Linked DNA regions of Homo sapiens: all the other regions are linked to region 1. The links come from fine-mapping of genetic effects on gene expression. A gene starts in region 1. Each other region holds a variant in brackets. All regions are shown on one strand. Distances are between the middles of the regions.

Evidence for each region. PIP is the estimated chance that this variant, and not a neighbour inherited with it, causes the effect.
Region 2: its variant is the best candidate, but not a certain one, in a credible set for the expression of ZNRF1 in fibroblasts (GTEx, PIP 0.57).
Region 3: its variant is the best candidate, but not a certain one, in a credible set for the expression of ZNRF1 in monocytes after LPS (Quach 2016, PIP 0.82).
Region 4: its variant is the best candidate, but not a certain one, in a credible set for the expression of ZNRF1 in whole blood (INTERVAL, PIP 0.76).

Annotation. Positions count from the first base shown.
Region 1 is chr16:74,995,998-75,001,145 of GRCh38, reverse strand. It overlaps ZNRF1 (zinc and ring finger 1), which reads right to left and starts at 2,122. Exons shown (of 5, transcript NM_032268.5): 1 at 1,051-2,122. The coding sequence starts at 1,474. RefSeq lists an enhancer at 251-310 and silencers at 1,101-1,410, 1,811-2,330.
Region 2 is chr16:75,103,481-75,108,628 of GRCh38, reverse strand. It overlaps ZNRF1 (zinc and ring finger 1), which reads right to left. Exons shown (of 5, transcript NM_032268.5): 3 at 3,740-3,845; 4 at 2,058-2,147; 5 at 1-896. The coding sequence ends at 2,090. Among named protein-coding and RNA genes, the nearest start is that of LDHD, 11 kb to the left of the region's middle. RefSeq lists an enhancer at 794-963. The variant C/T (reference allele first, on the strand shown) is at 2,515.
Region 3 is chr16:75,088,256-75,093,403 of GRCh38, reverse strand. The region is part of intron 1 of ZNRF1 (zinc and ring finger 1); the gene reads right to left. Among named protein-coding and RNA genes, the nearest start is that of LDHD, 26 kb to the left of the region's middle. RefSeq lists a silencer at 1-116 and an enhancer at 5,027-5,148. The variant G/TG (reference allele first, on the strand shown) is at 2,046.
Region 4 is chr16:75,050,354-75,055,501 of GRCh38, reverse strand. The region is part of intron 1 of ZNRF1 (zinc and ring finger 1); the gene reads right to left. Among named protein-coding and RNA genes, the nearest start is that of ZNRF1, 54 kb to the right of the region's middle. The variant T/A (reference allele first, on the strand shown) is at 2,525.

The DNA.
Region 1 (5,148 bases):
CTCACCCAAAAGAATCTTAAGATGTAACTTCATCACTCAACTTGCCAATTAGCAAATAGCGGCCCCCACATCCCTTTTGGCCAATTTTCTAGATGCCTGACCTAGCAGACAGACCTGTTTTCCTCCTGCCAGGCCTTTTTTGCCCTCCCGCTAGGAGCCTGGGAAATCCCCCTCCAACCTTTTGCTGGCCTGTCACCAGAAGTTCATAAAATGAATTCATCCAGATTCTCTGAATCCTCCTTTTCCCCAGTCATGTGCCAACAGCCAGGCAATAATGCCCCACCGTGACAGGCTCCCTGTTACAAAAAGATGCAGATTCACGGGAAGACCAAGCACTTAGCATGGAGCAGAAGAAAAAAAGATGGAGGGAGGCGAGAGTCGCGGAGCCAAGCCTGCTGCATGCAGTACGGGTGACCACAGCCCGGGTCCTGCAAAGCCCCCGCGAGACTCGCCGGCTGGGCCCTCCGTACAGCAGCCACACCTGTCTATGCCAGCCGCCTGCCGGCTGCTCCATTTTAAACATTTCAAACAGATCTCCAGCAGGGTGGCAAAACTGGGCACCTCTCTCTCCCAGCAAGAGTGAGAGCCCTAATCCAGGCATCACTTGCCCCTGATTTTATTTCATTTTCACACACTCTGTTTAGGAGACACTGCTTGCTCCAACTGGCTCCATCTCTCCGTTACCGGTGAGGCAGGCACAGTGCTGCAGTGGCAGAATGGAAGTACCCAGGCTGACTTGCTCTCAGCCAGACACGACCTCTTCTCTGAGGAGGGTGATGCCAATAAATGGAACTCCAATAGGTAGGCTTCGCTCTGCCCTTCCACAAGTGAACACACGCCGTGAGTCCCTAAATCGCCAGGCTCCGCAGCCTCGCAGAAAGCCTAGTTTCCAGACGGTAGGTATCCCATTTATCCCTTGGCATCGGGAACCAAAGGGAATGCAGACAGATCCCGGTCGTGCACTACATTCCCAAACCTTGGCACGCACGCGAAGGCTTGGGGCGCCCCGGCGCGCCCTCCCTCCGAGGCCTCCACCACCCGCGGACTCACCACTATGCGAGCTGAACCACCTGGGTGCGATGTGCAGAGGTAGAGCATCCGCCAGCGAGGCTCGGGAGCCCAGGTACAGCATCCCGTCTCTATGGTGACCGCCGCCCGTCTCCTGGTAACCATTGCCATGGGCATAGGTGGAGTCGGACGCAGACCCTCCGCCGCCGGGCGCCCTCTCGGAGTCGCCGGTGCCCCGGGAGGCGGGGGTGTAGAGGCCAAAGGGCACCCCCCCGGCCGTGCTGGGGTCCATGCCCATGCCTGCCACCGAGCTGACCGAGCGGCTGCGCAGCCCCATGGCCCCGCCGCCCGTCCGGTAGTGCCCGAAATGGGGCGCCCCTCCCGGCGGCGGCACGGCGCTGTCATCGGTGGAGACCCCCGGGAAGGGGCCCCGGGAGCGGGCCGCCGTGCTCTGCTTGCCCCCCATGCTCGCCCGGGCCCCGGTGGGGCGGGAACCTGGAGGCCGAGACCCTCCCCCACTTCTCAGCAGCAGGGGGAGGGCTGGGCGAGCATAAAGGGGGAGGGAGTCAAAAAGGAGACCCGGAGGGAGAAAAGGAAAAAAAGCAAAAGGAAAAAAGGAAAAAACCCGCGGGGCGGAAGAGGCAGGCGGGCGGGCGGGGATCCCAAACTCAGAATTTCAAACGATCCAAGGCAAACGCATGTTTCCCCTCAAGGTCCAAAGAGGCGCAGTCCGGCGCGGGCTCCGCGCGCCACAGGCCGCCCCCGGGCTCCGAAAGCCGGGGGAGCCGCAGGGAAGGAGGGAGGGAGGCGGCGGCGAGCGGCGGGCGGGCGCGGGGAGGCGCCGGAGGAGGCCGCCCGCCCCGCGGGAGGAGGCGGAGGAGGGCCGGGGGCGCCGGGCGCGTCCCCCGCCTCAGGACGCCGCGACCATGGACGGCGGCCCGGACCCCTCCAGGCCTCGGGCGGGCCGCGGCGCTGGGCGGCCAGGCGCAGCTCGGGAAGCCGCGGTCGCGTCGCGTCGCGCTCTCGCTTCAGCCGCCGCCGGCCCCGCCAGCCGCGCCGCCCCGCTCGGTCCCGGGCTGCGCTCGCCGGCGCTCCTCGCCGCCGTGGAGACAATGGAGGGCGGCAGAGCGCAGGCGCGGCCCGCGCCCCCTCCCCCTCCCCCCGCCGGGTTAACCCTTTCGCGGTCCCTGCGGCGCCTGGGCCGCTGACGCCCCAGCAGTCCCCACCCACCGCCCGCCCCCGGCCGGCCTGTGACCTGGGCGGCCTGACCACTGGGCGTTAGCCACAGAAACCAGATGTCTTTCAAAAGCAAACACTTCTTAAGTCCCCGAAAGTGGCAAATTATTCAGGGGGAACCAAGTATGGGGGAGGGGCAGCAATGGTTCGAGGGGGTGGGAAGGAAACACCGGGAAGAAGGAGATTTACTCCTTACGCCTACCTGGCTCTGAGGGTCACCGGTCGAGCTCCCCTCCTGGCACAAATTTGCCCCCACAGCACCCTCTGGTGGACGTGATGTCCATTCTTTCGGGGGTTCCCCATCCAAGCACCCCTCACGTCCGGAATCTCAACATTTGGCGGGGTTTAGTTATTTGGGGGTAAACAGCGCCATGGGGACACTTGTGAATCCGGCGTTTTGCTGACACTAGATCATAACTTCCTATTTTGGGCTTAAGCAAATGAGTAGATTCCTTAGCTAAAATGTAATTTTCAGAATCAATAGATGTACCATAAAAAGTGAATAGATATGGGTATGGAAATAGAACAACGCAGCTAGAAGTGATTATAGAAACCTTCTGTCCAAGGCTGGAGCCCTGTTTTGTTTACCATGTGCTGTGTTTCGGCCCTCACCACGGGCCAAGGACACGGTGGGTACTCAATAGGTGTATTGTTGACCAAGCCTGAATCATTTGCAAGGGAGTGTTCCTTTGCTACCTCAAGCCGTCTTTCTCCTATATTCACATTCATTTATTGAACAACTGTTTTTTTTGTTTTGTTTTGTTTTTGTTTTTGAGACGTAATCTCGCCCTGTCACCCAGGCTGGAGTGGTGTGGCGTAACCTCGGCTCACCGCAACCTCCGCCTCCCGGATTCAAGTGATTCTCCTGCCTCAGCCTCCCGAGTAGCTGGGATTACAGGCACATGCCACACTGCACCTGGCTAATTTTTTGTATTTTTAGTAGAGGCGGGGTTTCACCGTATTGGCCAGGCTGGTCTTGAACTCCTGACCTCAGGTAATCCACCTGCCTTGGCCTCCCAAAGTGTTAGGATTACAGGCATGAGCCACCGCGCCCGCCCTGTTTTTCTTTTTCTTTTTTTTCTTTTCTTTTTTTTTTTTTTTGAGACGGAGCCTTGCTCCTCCCAGGCTGGACAACCTCCGCCTTCCAGGTTCAAGTGATTCTTCTGCCTCAGCCTCCCGAGTAAAAGTCTGTTAAAAATTTCAAAATCAGGCCGGGCACGGTGGCTCATGCTTGTAATTCCAGCACTGTGGGAGGCTGGGGGTGGGGGGGTGGGGGGAGATGGGGCAGGGGATCACCTGAGGTTAGGAGTTTGCAACCAGCCTGACCAACATGGTGAAACCTCATTTCTACTAAAAAAAAATGAAAATAAAAAATAAATAAATTAGCCAGGTGTGGTAGCTCACGCCTGTGATCCCAGCTACTTGGGTAGCTGAGGCAGGAGAATGGCTTGAACCCGCGAGACAGAGGTTGCAATGGGCTGAGATCGCGTCACTGCACTCCAGACTGGGCAACAGAACGAGACTGTCTCAAAATATACATATGATATATATATATGTGTATATACATACATATATAGTAGAGATGGGAGTTTCCCCATGTTGTCCAGGCCGGTACTCCTGGCCTCAAGCAGTCCTCCCACTTCGGCTTCACAAAGTGCTGGGATTACATCATGAGCCACTGTGACTGCTGAACAACTATTTATCAAGTGCTAGGTGCTGGCTGTGAGTATCACACAGTCCCTGGCTTAGCTGACTTCCACCTATTAAATGACCCCAGATACTTCTAAACTGGGGGACCAAAACAGGATGTTCAGAAATATTAAAAGAAAACCAAAAAGAGCAAGGCTAGCCCGTCACAGGTATTGATTGTTCCATTGTGGCCAGCCTGGAAACAGGAGGAAACCTATTTGCAAGCATGAAATACCTGGAGGTGAGCAAACAGCCCTGTAGAAGTAAGAATTTTTGCAAGAGAAGTAAAAATAGGAAGAAACAAAATGTGCCAACATCTAATAAATTATCTGTAGGTGCCTATATGAGTATGTGTATACCTAAAGAGGAAAAACAAGAAAGCTTAAATTTAATCCCATTTCCTCCTAGAAGAAAGACTATGGTATCAGAAGAGTGGTTCAGTACTATACTAAAAAAAAAAAAGGTATTAGACCCCGTGGAAGATCCCTATTAGAGAGATAAATACATGATACCCATTGTAACTATCCAAACAGCTTTTGATTTATCCATTCACTGAACAGTTTTTTAGTGTATTTAACACAATATTTAGTATGTAATAAATTCCAGGCACTGTAGTAGGTTCTGGGATACAGTACTGAACCAGAACCAGACAGATGGAGTCCCTGTTCTCATAGAACATCAGAAGAAACACTTCCCACCCACTTGAATGGCTATGATCAAAGAGAAGGGCAATAGTAAGTATTGATGAGAGGTGGAGAAATTGGAACCCTTGTACCTTGCTGGTGGAAATGTAAAATGGTGCAGCTGCTTTGGAAAACAGCCTGACAGTTCCTCAAAAAGATTAAATGTGGAGTTACATGACCCAGCAATTCTGCTCCTACCTAGGTAGAGTTCCAAGAGAAAGCAAAACATATGTCTGCAGAAAAATGTGTACGTAAATGTTCATAGCAGCATTATTCAAAAGAGCTAAAAAGTGGAAACAACCCAAATGCTCATCAACTGATGAAGAGGTAAACCAAATGTGGTGTATCTATACAATGAAATATTATTCAGCCATGAAAAGGAATAAAGTACTGATTCATATTACAACATGGATGAATCTTGTAAAAGCATATTAACTAAAAGAAGCCAGCCATAAAAGACTATGTATTGTATGATTTCACTTATATGAAATGTCCAGAATAGGCAAATCCATTGAGACAGATTGATTAGTGG
Region 2 (5,148 bases), 110 kb before region 1:
TTAAACATTTTATAAGTTTTTTTTTGTATTTTAATATATAAATACAGAAACCTATCTTGCATGGGCTGATGCCACGTGTGAACATCAATGGCTAAAATGTTCTCAAACATAGTGCCTGAAAACAGGGGTAGCTGTACATATTTCTTAGTAAGTCTTTTTTTGTTTAAGTTTTCTGAAAAAAAAAATCCACGAGGGCCTAAGAATAATGTTCAGGCATTTTTGCAGGACACTTGTGATTGTTAAATCCTCTGAACTGACCGGAACCAGGAGGAAAGAAGGGAAAAGAGATGGGATCAGTAGGAAGAAAGTTCTCAATGGGTTGTTTTTTGGCAATGAAGTCAAGATATTAGGGTCTCAAGGGGAGAAAAGAGCAAAAAACCAGCCAGAAAAATAGAGGGAAAAAACCAAACAAACCCAAAGTAGAGAAGTTGGTGGTGGAGAGGGCCAGTTGGGGCAGGGGAAGAGACCGTGTGCTCGCCCGCCGTCAGAAGGCTGGCAGCGAGGCCTTAGCTGTGTTCGTCTGTCACTGAGTGGGTTATGGCTGGGCAGCAAACAGCAAGCTGTAAACATCACGAGGGAAAACACCAGTCGACACTAGACTTTTTTTTTATATAATTTTTTTTTGTAAACACTTTAAAGACAGACCCACAATGCCTTTCAAAGATGAAAAAGAAAATGCCCTTTCCCTCCTGGGCTGAGGGGTGAGGGGAAGGATAGCAGTTGATTCATTCTTCTCTCAAACTTGCTCTCATCCAATTTGGTGTCCTCAGGGAGGAAGGGAGAACCATGATCTGGAAGTCAGTGCAGAAGGGGTGCCCTGTTCCCGCTGGTGTCCCAAGCTCAGCTCTGCCCCAGGGTCCGGTGAGCCTCCTCCCTGGAGCAGGGGCGCTCTGTCCCTGTGTGGACCGTAATAAATAAGTCGTGCTCCATCGGGCCGAGGGCTGTCTGCTCATCCCAGGGCAGCTGCATCCCAAGAGGGCAGGCGGGGCTGGGGCGTCTACACAGGACCCCAGAAGCCAAACAGCACACGGGGAATTTGCAGCCATGTGCCTGGGCAGGTTCTACTCCCCTGCCTCACTCTCCCCCCTGGCTCTTTCTTCTCCCCTTGTCATCAGTTTTTGAGGTGGAGGTAAAAAGAGCAAATGTCCCTGATTTGTCTGACATCATCAGCTGTTCTGGGAGTTTACTTGGAATAAATAAAATAAACCTAACAAAAGAAAACGAAAGCAAGAGAGAGAGAAAGGGAGGGGGGAAGAAAAAGGTCCCAAAACCTTTGGCTGTGAGATGGAGTTGGGCTTTTGGTTTTTATGGGGGTTTTGTCTACTTGTTTGCCAGAAAAAGGAAAATGCCAGCCCAGAACTTGGAGGGGACAGGTGAGATGGGGGTCAGGGGTGGATGGTTGGCAGCAAGTGGGGTACCCCTGGGGGAGAAATGGGGAGGCCAGACCCAGCGGTAAGCCAGGGGGATGTGTGGAGTCAGCACCCAGTGCTGTGGGATAGAGGGATCGAGTCTGGCCTGGAGGCCTCAGATTCATCTGGAAGCGGCATGGGAAGAAGCAGTGGTCAAATGATCGCTGACCAGCACTTTGCAGGGAACAATGCACTGCCCATGGCTGTTTAGTAAGTGCAATGTCCTTATGGCAACAGGGAGTGAGATTATCCCCGTTACCATAGAAGAGGCGGAGACTCAGAGGTGAGCGAGGATGAGGCCAAGCCAGGCACAAACCCACCGCTCAGGCTCCTTTTCCTGCCCGTGCACATTCCCAGGGGATATTCCTGAACTTTCTTTAGGAATGTAGATTGTACTGGTCTCTTCCCCAACTGATCCTAACTCTTCTGAGCCTGTTCTTCATAACTGTCCATGTTGGTTTGTATCTCTTGTCCTTCCCAGGGAAAATCATTTCCGGATGACTAACTGCTCACTGATGAGGTGCTCCTTCCCTCTGCTCCTGCTTTCTTCTCAGTGGCATAAGGGCAGCCCGGCTCCCTAAACTGCAGGCCCCCAAAGTGACCTGACCCCAAGCCTTGAGCCCGGAGCACCCCCAAACGCGGGCTCACCTTTGAGAGGAGTCAGCAAGCAAGCCCGCAGGTCAGTCCGCAGGGTGTTCCGGACAAGATCTGTTCACTTCAAACCACGAGTCTATGCAGCTGGGAGGAGGGGGCCGCAAGGGAAACCACGTTACCTGCTGCCCAGGCTGCTTTGAAGGGGCTCTTTCAGAGGGCCAGATTCCTGAGCAGGAGCTTCCTAAGTCTCTTCTGAAAGGACCCCAGGGAAACACAGTCATGTCCCCAGATATCCCTACTTTCTGAAGCACGAAGAAGGGTGAACACCAAGACTAGTCTTGGCCCAGGTGGAGGCAGCAGTACCGGCTCAGGGGGATCTGGTGCTGCAGGAAGGGGCAGAGTGGCTTTCAGAAGGACCAAAGCTTTCTGTGCAGAGCCCAGGAGAATGGCAGCAGCCACCAGTGAGAAGGTGAGAGCGGTGGACCCCTCAGGGCAGCTAGTCAGCTGTCTC[C/T]AAGACTCCCAAGGGCAGGGAAGTGGGAACAATGGCATGGCAGGAGGGCCACGGCTCTGGGTGCCACAGTCCTGAAAGAGCTCCTTCCTGGGTCAAAAGAACAGCTGTGAAGCTCCCTCCCAGTGGGTGACCTCTTAGGAGAGCCCCAAGCTCTACCCGGCTCAGCCATGATCAGCTGATCAGCAGCATCTAGTCCTTCCTGCAAGAGGCGGGAGGGGAGCCAGACAGTGAAGCCCTGCTCTCCAGTGTTTACAGAGAAAGGCTCTCTGCATCAAAGAGGGAACAGAGATTGCCCCAAGACAGCTTCCTGATTTGTAAACCAACATCTGGGCATTTTCAAAGACAGGAACCAGACAGATAATTGGCATAATTCTCCCCGAGGGCCAAAGATTTCCTTTTCTGGTTCTGGTTAGTGCCGCCCTGGGACACAAGCAAGGCTCCGTGCTGGGAGCTAGACCAAGAATCTCTCCCAGGCCAGCCTTAAGCCTCCTCTGCACCAGCCACACTGCGTGCCATGCCCGGTTGTCACCCTGTGCAGCAGTGGCCCTGAGAGTCAGGCTTTGAAAGGCCTGAGTGTCAGGAAGAAGCTCTGGGCTCGAGGATTCAACAGGTGCTGGCCCCAGGCAGCACAGTGTCCTGTCTTGGGCAAGAGGGTGCCTTCCTTCCAGCTGGAAACAAGGACGAGGCTCACACTGGAGTCCCAAGGCATATCTGGGCCCTGCTACTTTTAACTGTGCCCAGTGCTGTGGCCCCACAGGAAATGGCTCTTCCTGCCTCCCGGCCCTCTAGGGAGAAGGCCAGTGCAAGGCAGTGGGTACACCCTCCGCCTGGCCTTCCTCGCACAGATTGATGTTCTACCCCTGTGGAGCAGAGGGACCCGTAGAGGAAGAAGAGGCAGGGAGACAGACGGAGAACCAACCTTCCCAGTGGGATCCGAAGCTCCTCCAACCTGTGAGGCTCTACGGGTCTCCCCATCAGCTCCCACCACCTGAGCCCTCAAACCAGAGCACACCTCTGGCAACTCCACTCTGCTCTGCACTTGGGATGCTCGCACCTTCCCGCCGGCACAGTGGACACCTGTCTGATGGCCTCTGCCCTTACCCGCTCGGAGCCAGAGGTCGGGGGAGAGGTCATCCCATAACCAAAGGAGACAGAATGGCTGGAGATGGGGGTCCGCCCCTCTGGGAGGTGGGGTGCACTAAGCTACCTTGCCAACCCCTCCTACCTTTTGTGATAGATGCACAGGCAGGGCAGCCTGGCTATCGTGTCCCCCTGCAGCAGCTCCTCCAGGCAGATCACACACTCACCCGCGTCTTTAGTCAGCACATCATCTGCAAGGGGGACAGGGGAGAGTGCAGGAGGGTTAGTCACCAGTGGACAGGTGGCATGGGGCAAGCAAGGGCCTAGGAACTAGGGGACTGCTTAGCTGCCCCAAGCTGTGCCCGGCTCTGCAGGGGACACAGAACCCCAAGAGGGACGTTGACCTTAAGACTTTCACCGTGGAGATAATGCGTGGACATCACATGTTAATTACCCAAAGACAAAATGGGATTAATCTCAACATGTGATTAACCAAAAGCCTAGGTGACAGCGGACGAAAAAGGCTTGGAGAAGGGTAGACAGGAAGCAGGGGCAGCATGAGGCAAGCTGTTTCCCTCCACAGATGCTTTCCTAAACACACACGTAGCCAGTGTGCTGATGTCTGGTTTGGAAAAATATGGTAATGGGTAGAGTGGTAGGAGGCAAGAATGAGAGGAAGAAACAGGTCCCCAAGAAAATCCTTGTGCACGGAGGTTCACAGCAGCATTGTTCACAACAGCCCAAAGGTGGAAACAACCCAGTGTCTACAAACTGCGCAACGGATAAACAAAAGATGATGTATCCACACAATGGAATATTACTAAGCCAAGAAAAGGAAGAACCACCACATGCTAAAACATGGATAAACGTCAAAAATACTACACAAAGTAAAAGAAACCACCTATTGTATGAACCCATTTATATGAAATGTCCAGAATAGATACATCCATAGAGAGGGAAAGGAGATCAGTATTGGGGACAGAGGGATATGGGGAGTGACTGCTTAATGGGTAGGGGGTTTTCTCCCCCCCCACCACCCCGCTTTTATTTGAGATGGAGTCTCACTCTGTCACCCAGACTGGAGTGCAGTGGCACTATCTCGGCTCACTGCAACCCCCGCCTCCTGGGTTCAAGTGATTTTCCTGTCTCAGCCTCCCGAGTAGCTAGGATTACAGGCGCCCACCACCACGCCTGGCTAGTTTTTGTATTTTTAGTAGAGACGGGGTTTCACCATGTTGGCCGGGCTGGTCTCGAACTCCTGACCTCGTGATCCACCCACCTTGGCCTCCCAAAGTGCTGGGATTACAGGTGTGAGCCACCACGCCTGACCCGTTTTTTCCCCTTTTAAAAACTTTATTTTATTGTGGTAAGACTAACATATGCTCTATCCTCTTAACAAATCTTCAAGTGTACAACATAGTATTGTCAACTGTAGGCACTATGTTGTATGGCAGATGTCTAGAACTTACTCATCGTGCATAACTAAAATGTTATACCCATTAATCCACCACTCCCCTTCCCCCCGCCCAGCCCCTGGCCACCACTAGTCTACTC
Region 3 (5,148 bases), 92 kb before region 1:
CTTTTTTTTTTTTTTTTTTGAGACGAAGTCTCACTCTGTCGCCCAGGCTGGAGTGCAGTGGCACGATCTCAGTTCACTGCAACCTCTGCATCCCGGGTTCAAGCGATTCTCCTGCCTCAGCCTTCCAAGTAGCTGGGATTACAGGTGTCTGCCATGACGCCTGGCTAATTTTTGTATTTTTAGTAGAGAGGGGGTTTCACTATGGTGGCCAGGCTAGTCTTGAACTCCTGACATCAGGTGATTCACCCGCCTCGGCCTCCCAAAGTTCTGAGATTACAGGCATGAGCCACCGCGCCCGGTGGCATTTGCCTTTTATTGCAGCCTTTGACTGACTGCCAGCTTTCACTAGGGCTCACCCTGCCTTATGTGCCTCGTTAAGGTTTAACCAAGGTCACTGACACCTGACTTGAGTTTTATCTTCTTTAGACCCTTTCTCAGATGGGTCTGGTGGACAATGGGGTAGGGAGGCATCAAACCAAGGCACCTGGAAACAGCCTTTGCATAACAGTTTAACATTCTTCTGCCTCACAGCCTTTCAGCCACTTGGTTGGATCACCCTGGGAGGAATCTCATCCCTCACCCAGCTCCCAGCCTCAGCCGCCCATGCCAGGTAGCAACTCTCTCCCTCACCCACAGCCCCCTCTGCCTCCTTTGTGGCTTAAGGCCACTGTCCTTTGAGATGTGTGTGAACTGCTTACACATCCAGAGTTTCAACTGATACAGAATTGTACCCATACTGGAGAATTTTGGTTGAGAATCTTTCGAGTTGAACTCCGTTAAGCAAACCTAATCCCCTGATCCATTTGTCCATACAACACAGATGAATTATTTCTAATTTTTTCCAATCTACTTTCATTGAAATGATTTTCAAATGGATCAATTCTTTTCCATATACATTCTATCAAAAAGATCTGTTGCCACTGAAATCTTATTTCTCTGCATTAAATTGTGCACATCACAGTTTCTCCCTTTTGTGACTGTGATTCCTGCCCGCCCAGCCTGGACTTCCTAATGTGGCACATTTAACAACAGCTGACCCTCAAACAACATGGGCTCGAATGGTGGGGCTCCACTTCCATGTGGATTTTCTATCGCCTCTGCCACCCTAAGACAGCAAGACCAACCCCTCCTCCTCCTCCTCTTCAGCCTACTCAATGTGAACACGATGAAGACCTTTATGACGATCCACTTCCACTTAACGAACACTAAATATATTTTCTCTTCCTTATACATATTTTTAAATGTTATTAAAAATTTTTTTCTTAATATTAGAGATGGGGTCTTGCTATGCTGCCTAGGCTGGTCTTGAACCCCTGGGCTCAAACAGTCTCCTGCCCTCAGCCTCCCAAAGTGCTAGGATTACAGGTGTGAGCCACCGCACCTGGCCACTTCCTTATCATTTTCTTAATAACATTTTATTTTCTCTCTCCTTATTGTAATACAGTATATAATACATTTATAACATACAAAATCCATCTTAATCGACTGTTTATGTTATTGGTAAGGCTTCTGGTTAACAGTAGGCTATTAGTAGTTAAGTTGTGGGGGAGTCAAAAGTTATCCACAGGGCTGGGTGTGGTCGTGCATGCCTGTAATTCCAGTACTCTGGGAGGCTGAAGCCGGCAGACTGCTTGAGCTCAGGAGTTTGAGACCAGCCTAGGCAACATGGCAAAAGCCTGTCTCTACAAAAATTACAAAAAAAAATTAGCTGGGAGTGGTGGTGTGTGCCTGTAGTCCTAGCTACTTGAGAGGCTGAGGTGGGAGGATGGCTTGAGCCCAGGAGGTCAAAGCTGCAGTGAGCCATGTTTGTGCCACTGCACTCCAGCCTGGGGGACAGAGCAAGATCCTGTCTCAAAAAAAAAAAAAAAAAAGTTATATGCAGATTTTTGACTGTGTGGGGGTCAGAGTCTCCCACGTAGTTCAAGAGTTCACTATACTGTTGTAAAGACTGGACTCTTGTGTTAGTCAAATTTTCCATATGCAGTTTTAATTGATACTAGTGATAACCATCTGCAATATTTCTTTTCTTTTCTTTTTTTTTTTTT[G/TG]AGATGGAGTCTTACTCTGTTGCCCAGGCTGGAGTGCAGTGGCACGATCTCCGCTCACTGCAACCTCTGCCTCCCGGGTTCAAGAGAGTCTCCCACCTCAGCCTCCCGAGTAGCTGGGATTACAGGTGAGCGCCACCATGCCTGGCTAATTTTTGTATTTTTAGGAGAGACTAGGTTTCGCCACATTGGCTAGACTGGTCTCAAATGCCTGACCTCAGATGATCTACCTGCCTGAGCTTCCCAAAGTGCTGGGATTACAGGCATCAGTCACCCAACATTTCTTATGAAACAGATAAAAGGCTGAATGTGGCTGGGTGCGGTGTCTCACGCCTGTAATCCCAGCACTTTAGGAGGCCAAGGTGGGGAAATCACTTGAGCTCAGGAGTTCAAGACTAGCCTGAGCAACATAGTTAAACTCTGCCTCTACAAAAAATACAAATTAAAATTAAATTTTTATTTAATTGGGTGCCTAACTCTGCATGAAAAGCCGTGACTCTGGTGGCCCGGGGTGCTGAGAGACAGGAGGCTAACTGACGCAACCACTTTGCTTAAAGTCCTCTCCAAATCCTCTTTTTTTCCCTTCATTGGCAGTGCTTTGAACTATGGGACCAGGCAGAAAATTCAGGGCCTGGCTAACTACAGACAAAGTGGACAGTTGACTCCATGGCACAGTCGCCATTTCCCCAACCTCTTTCCTCAGAGATTCTTAGCATCTGAGCATGTCACTTAAAAAGTCTTGGAAACGCTACCAATCCAAGGACTTTGGTGGAGCTTCGGGAAAGGGCTGTATTTCTAACCTCTGGGTGGTTATAAATCCATCATTAACAAAGCTAGAAGACCAGGCCTGGTGTGGTGGCTCACGCCTGTAATCCCAGCATTTTGAGAGGCCACGGTGGGAGGATCACTTGGACTCAGGAGTTTGAGACCTGCCCGGGCAACACAGTGAGACCCCGTTCTCCACAAAAAGGACACAACAACCAGAACAACAACAACAAACCCCAGAAGACTATAAAGAAAGGAGGGGAATTCCATCCAGTTTTCTTGCACAGCTGGATCTAAACACACCAGGCTGATTATTTTCTAACTCAGTTTAGAAATGTGCAGATCCAGGGTCACAGCTCGATGGGGAGGTGAGGTGTAAACCTGCGTCTCACAGATGGAAGATGCTTTTCCGATCCAGCCTAAGTCCCTCTGCACTCACATGGGGTTTTTTTCAACCCCAAAGACCAAGGTTTTGCAACCCTTTAAATAACTAAAGGACACCTGCACTTTAACTTGGCACCTGCCTGCAGGCTGAGGCTGTGGAAGGAGAGGAGGGATGTGGTCTAGGACAGGCCTTCTGCCTCCAGGCCCTGACACTCTCACTGCCTAGCGTTAAAGTGACCTGTGACTAAGAACAAAACTACACCTTGCAGGTACTTATGTTTCTGATAACTCAGAACAGATTCAAGGTTATCCCTATAATAGCATCATTTACTCCCCTGTATTCCAGCGTGATTCCTTGAGTGCAGGAGGGGAGTTGAGTTACAGCTAAGGTACTAGGAAGTAGGCCACCCAACAAGAAGGTCTACAAGGGAATGTCACCAGACATTCATGTCCTAGAAAAAAAAGGCGGAGACTCAAGTTTAGAGCAATCCCCTCACTGTCCAGATGAGGGAATGGGCCCTGGTGAAGGCCTCTGAGTAGCACACTGTCACACAACTGAGGAGGTGGAGCTGAGACTAGCCTCAGGGTTCTCTGCTTCAAATCTAAAGTCCTTTCCGTCAGGGTAGGGAGAGTTGGCCATAGGGTTTTAAGAACGAGGCATGTTGGGAAATATTACCTCTGGAGAGGAAGCACCACTGGTGTAGGAAGAGGCCTACACTTTAACTAAAGCAGGGTTAGTAACACCAGCATCTACTACCTCTGGTGTTTCTGTTTTATTTTGGCATAGCTCAAGAAATAGCTCTGGGCTGGGCACGGTGGCTCACACCTGTAATACCAGCATTGTGGGAGGCCATGGTGGGAGGATCACTTTAGCCCAGGAGTTTGAGATCAGCCTGGACAACACAGGGAGACCCCGTCTCTATTAAAAACTTTTTTTTTTTAATTAGCTGGGCATGGTGGTGCATGCCTCTAATCCCAGCTACGTGGGAGGTTGAGGCAGGAGGATCGCTTGAGCCCAGGAGGTTGAGGCTGCAGTGAGCCATGATCATGCCACTACACTCCAGCCTGGCCAACAGAGTGAGACCCTGTCTAAACAAAAAACAAAAATGAGTAAGTTGGTGTCTATTATGCGAGTGGGAAATCACATGATGACCTGGCTTTTCCATCCTCGAGACCATGGCAAGGGCACACTGGCCATGGGCTATGCAGAGTCCACTAGGGGGTGGCCAGCAGCTCCCATCTCTGCCGGGTGCCATCACCGTTTCCTTTGAACCTCTCGAGCACTGTGCACTACGACTGGCACTTTCCATACTGCCAACTGGAAACCAACAGTCTCTCTTTAACCTCTGCAGCACCTACTCTTGCATATGATAATAAATAATAGTTTGCATTTATTGAGTCATTACTATGGACAGCCATGGTGCTTTACATGTCTTCTCATATACGGTAGGTAGGTACTATCTATCATTAACGCCATTTGACAGATGAGGACATCAAGGCTCAGAAGATTACATAACCTGATCAAGATTCGCATGGCCAGAAAGAGGCAGAGCTGGCCCACGACACCTAGGAAGTCTGCGCTCTTGCTCGTGTGCTGTGCTACTGACTGACTAGCACAGAAGAGTTACATGGCAGAAAGAACAGAAATACTACCAGCTATTACCAAATACTCATTTATGAACCTTCTACACTGTCCCAGCAATTTCTCCTTAAGTGCCCCATAGTCCGGGCTAACTTGTAGCCTGAAACAATGGACACTTTTTTTTCCTAGGAACTCTGTTATAACTATCTGGAGTTCTGCTTTCCATTTGGCACTGGGCCTACAGCACTGGTTGTAAGATGCTGAATCTGCAGATGACCTTTTAAATGGAAAATAAAGGGTAAAAGGTAAGAAGGACAGAAAAAACACGGACAGCTAGAAAAGACTAATATCCCCAGCTTCTTTCCTGAAATGTCA
Region 4 (5,148 bases), 54 kb before region 1:
ACGACCTACTCCTGGGCTGGTAGCATGGAAAGTGCTGGAACCAAGTTCTTCACAACAAAGACATCCAATAACTTAGGGCACTGGTTCTGCTGCAAGAAGGTGAGATTCTACATCATACATTGGGGACTGGAAAGACAGAATGGATACACACAAATGAAGGAGTGGTTCTAAATTCTAGTAAGCCTGGGTGATACAGCGAGACTCCGCCTCAAAAATAAATAAATAAAAATAAATAAGTTCTAGTAAGCCAGTGTTGCCACTTTATTTAAACCTGAGAAACAGTTCCTTTAGAAAGCATTAAAATGGGAGCAATGGAAAGAGTCCAAATGACGTTCCCACACTTCTCAATTCACTCCCTGCATCAATGCAGCATGGGGTGATGCCTGGCCCTGCTTGTTGGGAGAGGAAAGCCATCTCTTTACAAACGAACGCCTGCCCACCCAGTCTGCCTGTTACAAAGGGCCGTCTTTCTGAATTTGTTCTAGAGAGCTGATATGATCACAGTAACAGTTTCATTAGGACACCCTGCTCCTTTAATTTCTGCTCTAAAACAAGACAGCTAGACAGGAGAAAAGACCAAGAAGAGAGTCAGATCCTCCTGTTTGGACTTGACCTGTAAGAAAGGCTAGAGACAAGAAGGGCTGGGATGGTCCCAGTGATGTGGGCAGTGAAGGCCAAAGCACCATTGCCATGGAGCAATTCCCACATTCCTAGAGAAGCCACGCTCCACGTGAATAGGTAAGGCCAATCTCCCAGGAGGATTAGTATCAGGGGAGAAATCAAGAAATGCTAACACAGAACTTAGCTTGAGAAAACAGCCAGGGGAGAACAAAGTGCCAGTATTACCTGATTGCTAAATTATTAAATTGCTGCTTAGGCTAAAAAGCAATGGTTCCTTAGGCCCTGAATTAAAGGCACCTGACACAGACCAGCATGAGGACTGAGAAGCCCACATAGTGACCTCCACTCTGACCATACCCAGCTTTCCCCCACTTCCCTGCAGACCCTATGGAGAAATCTGCCCAGAGAATCAGGCAGGAAAAGATGAGCCAGTGCCTGGCTTGTCCCTTGAGCCACCAAAGTCAACAAAGCAGACAGAACTGGCAGGGTGCCAGGGAGGCAAAGTGGCATCAGCTTCTCCCAGCAGGGCCACGCCTCACCACAAATGGACTTTTAGAACAAGAGTACCCTACCCTCACAACAAAGGTCACTGCATTTATTTTCCTTCTCCAAAGCAAAATGGCTGAAGCCAGGAACTGCACTTCTGGTCAACACAGTTAAGGTCCTTCCCACTCTGAAAGACAAAATGCACTTTGCTTGTTGAAACACAGCAGGATGAGGATTTTCCACATGGGCTTCTGCCTTTTTCACAGGAACCACGAAACCAGAGGAAACTAAGGGTCCTTGCTTAGGGCCTTGGGGGAGTACAAAGGGAATTGTCAACAAGGAAGGAAGAAATAATCTCAAATGGCATCAGTCCTATTCCCTGAAGGGGAAGACACATAGTTCATACGAAAAGTAAAGTTTTGACCATGGCTTGGGAAGACTCTGATCACCAAAGGGAATATGTAACAAAGAACTTGCGTGGCCACAATGAGCCAAAGCCAGCAGAGGTGACCTGAACAGGGAGTACAGGAGCCCAGGAACAACCTGGGAATACCCTAAAGGCTCTTTTCTAAAGTCTAGACTTTCTCCAAAATGTGATGTGTACACACCAAAGTACAAACTGAAAAGACATTTTCTGAGCTTGTGAGGAAATTACTACTTATGTGAGTCCACTCTGCTTATTTAATAGGTGGATGTGTTTTACAGCATGGGGCACATCTATCATGGGCATTAGGGAAGCTCACAAATAGCCCCTGATAGTGACAGCCACTGGACATTGGTGATTTTTTTTTTTTTTTTTTTTTTTGAGATGGAGTCTCGCTCTGTCACAGAAGGCTGGAGTGCAATGGTGTGATCTCGGCTCACCGCAACCTCCGCCTCCCAGGTTCAAGCGATTCTCCTGCCTCAGTCTCTTGAGTAGCTGGGACTATAGGCGTGTGCCACCAGGCCTGGCTAATTTTTGTATTTTTAGTAGAGACAGGGTTTCACCATGTTGGCCAGGCTAGTCTTGAACTCCTGACCTCAGGTGATCCACCTGCCTTGGCCTCCCAAAGTGCTGGGATTACAGGCATGAGCCACTGCACCCAGCCATTGGCGATTTTTATGTTTTTAGCTGGAGTCCTCAAGTTAGAGAACAAAAATGCTTTTCTGACCCTCTATTCCCACCTTATATGTATATTTAGATAATTGATGTTTAACTTTAAGGTTCTAGCCACCCACCTGAACCAGTTTTATTATGTGGGGTGGGAAGTGAGATAAAGCCCCCTAGATTTCCTCTGCGATCTATAAATAGAGCTTCAGGAAGGCAATCAGCCTACCTAGGGCAGGAATTTCAGTCCATTTGCTCAGGAGGCTCCTCCCTCACTTCCAATCCAGAGGCCCCATGGAGCTAAGTCAGAGGGCGCCGATTCACATCATG[T/A]CCCCAGTGGCAGCAAATGAAAAGGCTCAGATTCTCCTCATTTTCACATGGGTTGCCAGCCTTGCTTTAACTCTGTAAGTTTGTGTTCCACAGAGCAAAATCACAAAAGAGATCATGCAATGATTAAGAGTGCATTTTGTGAAATGCATCACAACAGTAAGCTGGACGGACAGACAGATCGATGGAGGGAAGGCTGTATAGACAGTCTGTGATAAAGCAATATAGACAATGTTGGCTGCACGGTTGAGGTGGTGGTTATATGGGTGTTCACTGAACAGTTCTCTCAATTTTACTGTCTGACACACCTGCCTGCTGGAAATGGAGGTGGCCTTGAAGAAGTGAGAATGGCAGTCATAGCCCTGAGGTCAGAGGACATGGTCTCACCTTAAACAAGCCTGCTGACCTGGAGGAGGACTTTCACATCCCCAAGCTTCTTTATTTAAAAGGGTAGTGGTCAAAATCAGGGACCTTTTTACAAACATCTTATGTTTGGACCCAACTATGAGTCTACTGACTCACAATGTGAGGCAGGTGGGGTAACATAACATTATCTTTTTCTTTTCTTTTTTTTTTTTTTGAGACAGGGTCTGGCTCTGTCACTCAGGCTGGAATGCAGTGGTGCCATGCTGGCTCACTGCAACCTCTGCCTCCTGGGCTCAAGCAATTTTCCCACCTCAGCCTCCCAAGCAGCTGAGACTACAGGTGCACGCCACCACACCCAGGTAATTTTTATGTATTTTTGGTAGAGATGGGGTTTCACCATGTTGCCCAAGTTGGTCTCGAACTTCTGGGTTCAAGCAATCCTCCAGCCTTGGCCTCCCAAAGTGCTGGAAAAACAGGCGTGAGCCACCACGCCCGGGCACATTCTCTATCTTGATAGGGTTTTGGGTTTTGCTGATGCATGTACTTGTCAAAACCCAGTGAACATGTACTTAAAATGTGTACATTTCTTTGTATGTAAACTTTCCACCAAGAGGAAAAGCTATAAAGAAATACTTAACACCAGTTAATGATGTACATATTGAAATATTTAAAGATAAGTATACAGATGTCTATAGTTTACTTTGAAATGTGTACAAAATAAGAGGTGGATAGATAAATAAAGGAGTGGATAGATGAATAGATTTGTGATGATTAAACAAACATAGTTTAAAAAAAGATGGGCTGTGTGCTGTGGCTCATGCCTGTAATCACAGCACTTCGGGAAGCTGAGGTGGGTGGATCATGAGGTCAGGAGTTCGAGACCAGCCTGACCAACACGGTGAAACCCCATATCTACTAAAAATACAAAAATTAGTTGGGCGTGGTGGCACATGCCTGTAATCCCAGCTACTCACAAGGCTGAGGCAGGAGAATCGCTTGAACCCGGGAGGTAGAGATTGCAGTGAGCCGAGATCATGCCACTGCACTCTAGCCTGGGAGACACAGCAAGACTCCGTCCCCCCCAAAAAAAAAAAGGGGAAGATGCAGGCTGGATGCGGTGGCTCATGCCTGTAATCCCAACACTTTGGGAGGCCAAGGCGGGCAGATCACTTGAGGTCAGGAGTTTGAGACCACCCTGGCCACCATGAGGAAACCCTTTCTCTACCAAAAATGTAAAAAATTAGCTGGGTGTGGTGGCACACACCTGTAATCCCAGCTACTCGAGATGCTGAGGCAGGAGAATTGCTTGAACCCGGGAGGCAGAGGCTGCAGTGAGCTGAGATTGTGCCACTGCACTCCAGACTAGGCGACAGAGTGAGACTCCGTCTCAGAAAAAAAAAAATAGATGTATTTGGAGGTGGGTAGTAGTGGAGGGGGTGGTCTGTCACCCGTACAGTGCAATCATAGCTCACTGCAGCCTTGAACTCCCAGGCTCAAGTGGGCCTACTGCCTCAGCCTCCTGAGTAACTGGGACTACAGGCATGTGCCACGACACCCAGGTTTTGTTTTTTTTTTTTTTCTTTTTGTAGCGACAAGGTCTCACCATGTTGCCCACACTGGTGTTAAACTCCTGAGCTCAAGCCATCCTCCTGCTTCAGCCTCCCAAAGTGCTAGGATTACAGGTGTGAGCCACTGTACCTGGCTACAAGTTTTTTGTTTTTTTTTGTTTTTTTTTTTTTTTTTTGAGACGGAGTCTTGCTCTGTCGCCCAGGCTGGAGTGCAGTGGCGCAATCTTGGCTCACTGCAAGCTCCACCTCCCGGGTTCATGTCATTCTCCTGCCTCAGCCTCCTGAGTAGCTGGGACTACAGGCGCCTGCCACCATGCCCAGCTAATTTTTCTGTATTTTTTTAGTAGAGACGGTGTTTCACCGTGTTAGCCAGGATGGTCTCGATCTCCTGACCTCGTGATCCGCCCGCCTTGGCCTCCCAAAGTGCTGGGATTACAGGCGTGAGCCACCGTGCCCGGCGGCTACAAGTATTTTTATTTTTTTTTTAATATCAGGAACACACGATCGATTGATTGATTGTTGAGACAAGGCCTGGCTCTGTTGCCCAGGCTGGAGTGCAGTGGCACAATCTCAGCTTACTGCAACCTCTGCCTCCCAGGCTCAAACCATCCTCTGATCTCAGTCTCCCAAGTAGCTGGGACTACAGGTGTGCACCACCACGCCCAGCTAATTTTTGTATTTTGGGTAGAGACA